Homo sapiens: one gene and its partner. The protein of the gene in region 1 purifies or fractionates together with the protein of each later gene. This does not show direct contact. Each region holds a gene or a part of one and is shown on either strand. Other genes may lie near its edges.

Region 1 (3,337 bases):
TTATCCCTCCATCCCTCCAACATCCAACCATCATCCTTTCATCATCCCTCCATCTCTCCACTCCGCCATCCCACCATCATCCCTCCATCTCTCCATCATCCCTTCATTATCCCTCCATCCCTCCATCATCCCTCCATCCCTCCATCATCCCTCCATCCCTCCATCTTCCCCCATCCCTCCACCTTCCCTCCATCCCTCCATCTTCGCTCCATTATCCCTACATTATCCCTCCATCCCTCCGTCCTTCCACCCCTCCATTCGTCCGTCCTTCCACCCCTCCATCATCCTTCCATCGCTCCATCATTCCTCCATCCCTCCATCTTCCCTCCATTATCCCTCCATCATCCCTCCATCATCCCTCCATCCTTCCACCCCTCCATCCTTCCACCCCTCCACCCCTCCTCTCCTCCATCCCTCCACCCCTCCACCCCTCCATCCCTCCATCCTTCCATCCCTCCATCCTTCCACTGCTCCACCCCTCCACCCCTCCACCCCTCCATCCCTCCATCCTTCCACTCCTCCATCCCTCCACCCCTCCATCCCTGCATCCTACCATCCCTCCGCCTCCCACCACAGTCCTGAACCAGCTGGAGGAGCTGCTGAGCGACATGAAGGCCGACGTGACCCGGCTGCCATCCATGCTGTCCCGCATCCCCCCGGTGGCCGCCCGGCTGCAGATGTCGGAGCGCAGCATCCTGAGCCGCCTGACCAACCGCGCCGGGGACCCCACCATCCAGCAGGTCAGGCTCGGCCTGTGTGCCCCGGCCCGAGCCCCCTGGCGTGCCCCTGGGTGGAGGCTGGGTGGGGGGCCTGAGACCACCTGTGAAGCTGAGTCCTTGCCTCCAGGGCGCTTTCGGCTCCTCCCAGATGTACAGCAACAACTTTGGGCCCAACTTCCGGGGCCCTGGACCGGGAGGGATTGTCAACTACAACCAGATGCCCCTGGGGCCCTATGTGACCGGTAGGTGCCCGTCCGCTCCGGGCAGCATGCACACGGGTGCCCGCCGGGCCCGGCCTGCCTGCTGCTGCCAACGTCAGGCAAGCCCGGCTCTCCTCTTTTTTTGACAGATATCTAGCCGTCCTCGAGACTTCCCTGTGTTGCAGCGCTCATTTCCAGCTGAGGTGAGGGCTGCTGGGTGCTGTGTTCCTCCCCGCCACCCCATTGCTGGCAAACCAGGCCTGGCCACAGTCAGCCCTGCCCCTGCACTTGACTCCCGTCCCTAAGTCCTGGAGCTTTTACTGCCTCCGGCGGCTTTGAGAGCCACCCACCTGCCTGGAGCCCCTCTACCTTGCCCCCTTGGCCCTGGGACCACCTTGTGGCCAGCGTGTCTGTCCACTGGGAGGCTGGGGTGGCAGGACATGAAGGGGTCGGTGGACTTGGGTGAGCTCCTGTGTGTGCACATGTGTTCTCATTTGCACACATGTTCCCAGCGGAAGTCAGAGACTGCTGCCCCCGCCTGGAGCCCTGTCCTGCCCCTGCTGTCCTGCTGGTGGCAGACATCACATCTTGTCTTACACCCTCACTTCCTGCCCAGGACCAGGAGGGTGGCTGAGGGTTTTGTGGGGGCTATTGGCCAGGAGAGGGGGCTTATTTCAGAGAAACTGCCAGTTCATTCTGGTCTTCTCTGGGGCCACCAGCCTCCACTACGCTGTGTCTGTCCCTGTGGGAACCGTGTCTTGCTGGAGGAGGCTCCAGAGGGGCTTCCTGGCTGGCTGCCCCTGCCCACTGCTGCTTCCTGGGTGCTCTCGGCACTCTGGGTGTAGCTCATGGCCTGGCCCGGCAGCCTGTGGCTGGGAGGTCATGGCTGGGGGGCACCCCGATCATAGTTGGTTGTGATAGGTGGAGAAGCAGCTACAGGCTGTTGGGTGCCACCCTGATGCCCCCTATAACTGCCCACCTGCTTAACCCACTGATTTGCGTTTTGCAGCCACGCCTGCCGGGCCACCTGCCCGACCCACATGGGAGAGAAAAGCTGCCACCTTTTTAGGAGCCAGCGCCACCTTGGGACAAAAAGGGAAACCTAGTAATGCCATCACATGGAGGACGAGGCCCAGCTCAGCTGGGCCAGAGCCCAGAAGTGCCACCTCATCATAATTCAAGTGTTCTTCCACACAGCGTTGCCCCCACAACCACGCCGGACGTGCCCCCTCGCCACCTTTTCCAGACGACTTCTTAGAAGAGATTTCATTTATTTGTACATCTTTTGCACTTTCCTATTGAAGACTTGAACACGTTTGTCTTGATAAAAGTTGGATGACGTATGGAAGATTCGAACCTGCAGCACTGATGTCTCTTTACCGATGGGTTCCAGACCCAAGGTAGTCCTGGCACTGCCCTGTGGACTCAGCCCAGCTGGGGAGGACATGGCGCCCGGTGCCCTAGGAGCCCTCAGTGTCCCCTACCTGACCTGTCTGCACCTGTGTGACAGCCCCTTCTGATTTGGCCCCCTGCCCGCTTGGAGCCTCCCAGCACCAGACAGGGCAGGTTTGGGGAGCCGCTGTCCAGCCCTATGGTGAGACCCTGGCTGACATTTCCCCTCCTTCCTGCCAAGGCTGGAGGCCGCCAGGTGTTTGCTCTCTCCTTGTGGGGAGGTGGATCCTCTGCCAGCAGGTGTCTGTCCCCGGCCCAGCGCATCTTGAAGGCCCTGGACTCTGTTACCAGTGGGGGGCCTGTGGCCCCGGCTCTTCACAGCAGGCAGAAGCGTATGATCCCAGGGAGGGTGGGCTGGGGGGGGGGCAGCACTTGCCTCGGAGCCACTGCTGCGTTGGGTTTGCCTTCTGCCAGAGGTGTGGTTAAGGGCAGTGATAGCTGCGCCCCAGCAAGGAGGGTCATGGGCCCTGAGCTGGCCCAGGAGACCCTGGCCCTGCCCTGTGCCCTGGGATGCCTACCCTGCCCACCTCCGGAGGTGGAACCGGGCTGCCCCTGGGGGCCTGGACTTGTCCCATTCCCCTGTCCCTGGAAAGGCCTTCCCGGGGGCTTTTTGCCTGAGGCTGCACTCTTGGAAGGCGTGGGGAGAGTTCTGCCTGGAGGGGGACTGGACCCAGTGCCCTCTGCAGACCCCTCCCAGCCGCAGCACCAAGGGCTTGCTGCCTTGTTTCCTGCCAGGAGCGCCCTGACATCCCAAAACCATCTTCCCACATGTGGGTTGTTGGAATCCCACCCACTCCCCCGGACCCTGCCCCTCCAAGTTGGGGACGGAGATGGGGAGCAGGTCAGGCCCTCCCTAGGCCTGTTTGTGTGTGATCCTTCTCCTGGCCCCAGGTCGACCTGGAAGGCGTTTCTGAGTCTTGTACTGGGACCTTCCCAGGGAAGGTGCCTTGGGGTGCAGAATCCTGG
Region 2 (3,820 bases), on another chromosome or scaffold:
AAAAAAAAAAAAAAAAGAATCACAGTAGCTCACACTGTAAAGATCAGAGAACTTTAAGCATTGAAAGATTAAGTGACTTGCCCAGTGTTGTACCTGGCAAATGACAGAGACAGGTTTTGAATATCAGTGTTCTGGCACCTAAATCTGATTATTAACCTCCAAGCTCTACTGACTCTGAATAAGTGTATTCAAAGTACTCCTGATATATTTAAAATGTGATATGGTTTACCTAAAATATAGCAAACTATATTGGAGTCTAAGTGCTCCTTTTAAAGCAAGCTATGCTTTTGGAAACTAGTGCTGTAATTTCAGGATTTTCCCTCTAACTAATGAAAGGCATTTTCTTTGCAAGAGAATTAAGCACCAAATTGTGCAAGGGTTGAAACACTCACTGAAATCAGGATTACACCCACTTTGGCATGGTGTGTCAAGCACCCAGGGCATAAGGAAAGAACAGCAGGCTGGAGTGAATGGTTACACATTCACATTTGAGCCTCAGCCATATATGTGGGTTAATTTCCAAATGGACATTTACATTGCCCTTGTGTGGACCAAGTTGGTGTTTATTTGCAAACATGTTATTTAGATCTAGGAAAATGACAGGATAGCCCCAGGAAAGTTTCACAATTATAACTTAACTAGGCTCCCAGCTTACTTTGCACAAAGGGAGTCCCCAAAATGTTTGATAAACACAACTTCTAATAGTTCATTGATTTTGGGGGAAGCAGCAGTCCACTTTTGCAGTAGGCCTTCACTGGGACTTGCAGACTGACACCCAACATTTGCTATTGCAATGTTATTGAGACTTAGAAACTCATGATACATTCCTGGTCCAGAGTCGGGTGGGGGGAAGTAGAAAAAGGGGAGCCAGAGATTATCTTTGGAAATCTAGTTTTTATTACATCACCTAAAGTAGCACAACCTGCTACACTAATGAAATCGTGTTCTTGGTTTAAAAGGGCAATTGTTAGCCTGACTTTGTGCTCACTAAAAACATTCCCCCAATCTTGTTAAGTTATTGCTCTCATTTCAGATTTTTATGGCTGTGCAGCTTACCAGCCCTCATTTCTTTACGTTTCATTCATTTTCCTTGTATTGATGATTAATGGAGGATGTCGAATGTTAGAGTGAGCAGGCATCAGCAATTGCAAGATCATAATTAGTTTAGCTGACGAGAGCCTCTGATAGCACTTGCATCTGGATGGAAAAATTACCCTATAGGGAACTGGCTGCTCACCAGGTCTTTTTAGTGATACATTGTGAAACACCCGATGAATCAAATGCCCTTTCAATGCCAAGAAAGTGTTCCAGTCTTGAAGCCAAAATTATGTCTGCAGAAAGCTTTCCATTTGAAATGTATCAGAGTACAATTATAACCATTGTATTTTCTTGGCAGGGATACCACTCTTCTACAGTATGGACTTGAGTTAAATAAATTGCCTAAATTTTATGAATCCCTGAAATTTTGACTTATGGCACATGTAATATTTAATTTATAATAAAATTAGGTTCCAGCAAGACTTTTTCCACTCCTTATCTAACACGCATATTTTATCATTAAAGGCTTTGCTTCCTAGAGAAAGGAGAGCTGAACTGCAATTCAGGCTGTCTTTTTTTTTCTTTTTTTTTTTCAGCAAGAGAATTCCATTTCCTGCCTGTTAGTATTTGTGCCTACAAACACAGCCTGACTTTTGTTTAAGTGAGAAGTTTAATGGAATCATTACTTGATAGCAAGAATGGAACAAGCAATACTAATTATCTAGTTTTAAATATTCTTAGGTTATTTTTAACCTGTTGATTACAAAACTCAGGCCACTAGAATCAATTTGTATTTGGAAACCCTTGTGATTTCCAAGTCTAAGTCAAATAAAATAAATAAATAGCCATTGAAGGGTCTATGTTGCCTAACTTAAGTGGGCACCTCATAAGGGTTCTCATTAGTAATACTGTACTTTTAATTGGCTGAAGTTTCTACAAACCCTCTCACGTTTGAGGAATAGAGGAATCTTTCAGATTTTACAATTGCAAACGAAAGACCAGAATTGAGTGTCTTATATTCTCGTAATACTTACGTTACATGAATGACATACAAAAACACACAAATCAAGTTTAATTTTAAATGATTTACATTTATTCCAAACTTGACTATATTTTAAAGCTCAGGTAGCATGTGCTCCTCCTTTCCAAAGTGTATTAAACATATTGCCATGTTCTGTCTTTTTGACGTATGTTTTGACACTTTTAAAAGGTATATTTTAGGGTTCAGCATTTAGGAGCCATCATTAAAGCCATAAAACCCAAAGTTCAAAAAGTTAAAGCTGTTTCTGTGAAAAGCCTTTGGTGTTCCACACACCTCATCCATCACTGTAGGGTTAATTATAATGAAAATCAGTGGTGCCTATTAAACACAATTGAACCTGACCTCATTATGGGCAGTGTGGTTTTATACTGTCATTGTTGCTAGTTTAAAGACAAAACTCCTGGGTTGATTTGGTCTAACTCCACTGATCATGTGACTCACCTCTGACCTTGGTTTTTTTCCCCTGTTTCAGAGGCGTAGAGGCTCCGGTGTTTTTTGTGCCAATTGCCTGACCACAAAGACCTCTCTCTGGCGAAAGAATGCAAATGGCGGATATGTATGCAACGCGTGTGGCCTCTACCAGAAGCTTCACTCGGTAAGAACTTGTTCCACTCTTTCAGGAAAAGCTTTATAAAGCAGTGTTGGCCTGGTCTGTGGTGTGATAAGTCCCATTCCCTGGCTTGCAGTGCCTGCCCCCGCAGGGTTGTTTTAATACAGTCACTTTGAGTGCACATGTGATTTATGGTGAAGGGGGCTTAGATGTGATGGGGAGATAGGTTTGAGGTCATTAGTAATGCATTATGCTTCTTTTGATATAAAAGAGGAAAATGATTGATTTCTGGGAACTTCACAGCAGATAGTTGAACTAATGGTTATCAGAATTCAATGAAATTATTTTAGGTAAAAAGGAGAAAATTTTTAGAAGTTTCAGAAATATGCAAAACGTTTTAAAAAATGAAAAAGGACTCGGTCATGTTCAGTATAAAATATAAGTCAGGGAAAGAATTCGTGTTTTCTAGTTTACCTTCGGAATTCACAAGTGTTATCTTGACCGCTTTAGGGGCTGGAGGGGCACATTCGGAAGGACAGTTCTGAACTGAATTAGGATCAGAGAATATCACATGAATCTCCCCAGGGCCTTCAGTGGGTATTTCAATGAGGTATCTGAAGTTCTGAATAGCACACACACCAGGGTAGAGTAAGGTGCAAAGATACTTTGTCTTTTAAGATCTCCAGCTGGCTTTGGCTCACGGAGGTTCTTTGAATTACTTTTCCTCAAATTTTAGTTAGAATTCTGTAATAAAATTAAAACTCACAAATCCTCCATCTGAATATGGATTTGACTTACTGAAGGATTTTTTTTTTTAGTTTAGCAAGTTCATCTGCTGACAAGAGCTGACTTTAAAATAGGCATCCCCCATTTAGTAAACAAAAATTTATTTCCCTGTGCCTTTTTCATTTCGTTTGGCGTTTTACCATAGCTCTTAGCACAAGCCAGTGAATACATTATGGCTACAGGGAATACACTTTTAGACAAAATGTTCTCATATATGGACCATTAGAAGCACTCTTTAAAAAATGCATGCTGCTAACACTACTAATTGGCAGTAAACTGTAAAAACCTTAGTTATTAGCATGTAGCAAGTAGAAAGATTCCACCCCCCACCACATACCAACTTATTTTTTTTAACCTTCACCATTTAAGCATAGCAATAAGTTTCTATTTAATGGGAACTGACA

What was found.
Region 2: the proteins of CHD5 (region 1) and TRPS1 purify together in Homo sapiens (co-immunoprecipitation; one large-scale study listed by IntAct). This does not show direct contact.

Annotation. Positions count from the first base shown.
Region 1 is NC_000001.11:6,104,019-6,107,355, reverse strand, and holds part of CHD5 (chromodomain-helicase-DNA-binding protein 5), read left to right. Parts: intron 1-576; coding exon 577-740; intron 741-846; coding exon 847-961; intron 962-1,068; coding exon 1,069-1,076; 3' UTR 1,077-1,122; intron 1,123-1,928; 3' UTR 1,929-3,337. UniProt on the Homo sapiens protein: ATP-dependent chromatin-remodeling factor that binds DNA through histones and regulates gene transcription. May specifically recognize and bind trimethylated 'Lys-27' (H3K27me3) and non-methylated 'Lys-4' of histone H3.
Region 2 is NC_000008.11:115,417,185-115,421,004, reverse strand, and holds part of TRPS1 (zinc finger transcription factor Trps1), read left to right. Parts: intron 1-2,552; coding exon 2,553-2,675; intron 2,676-3,820. UniProt on the Homo sapiens protein: Transcriptional repressor. Binds specifically to GATA sequences and represses expression of GATA-regulated genes at selected sites and stages in vertebrate development. Regulates chondrocyte proliferation and differentiation.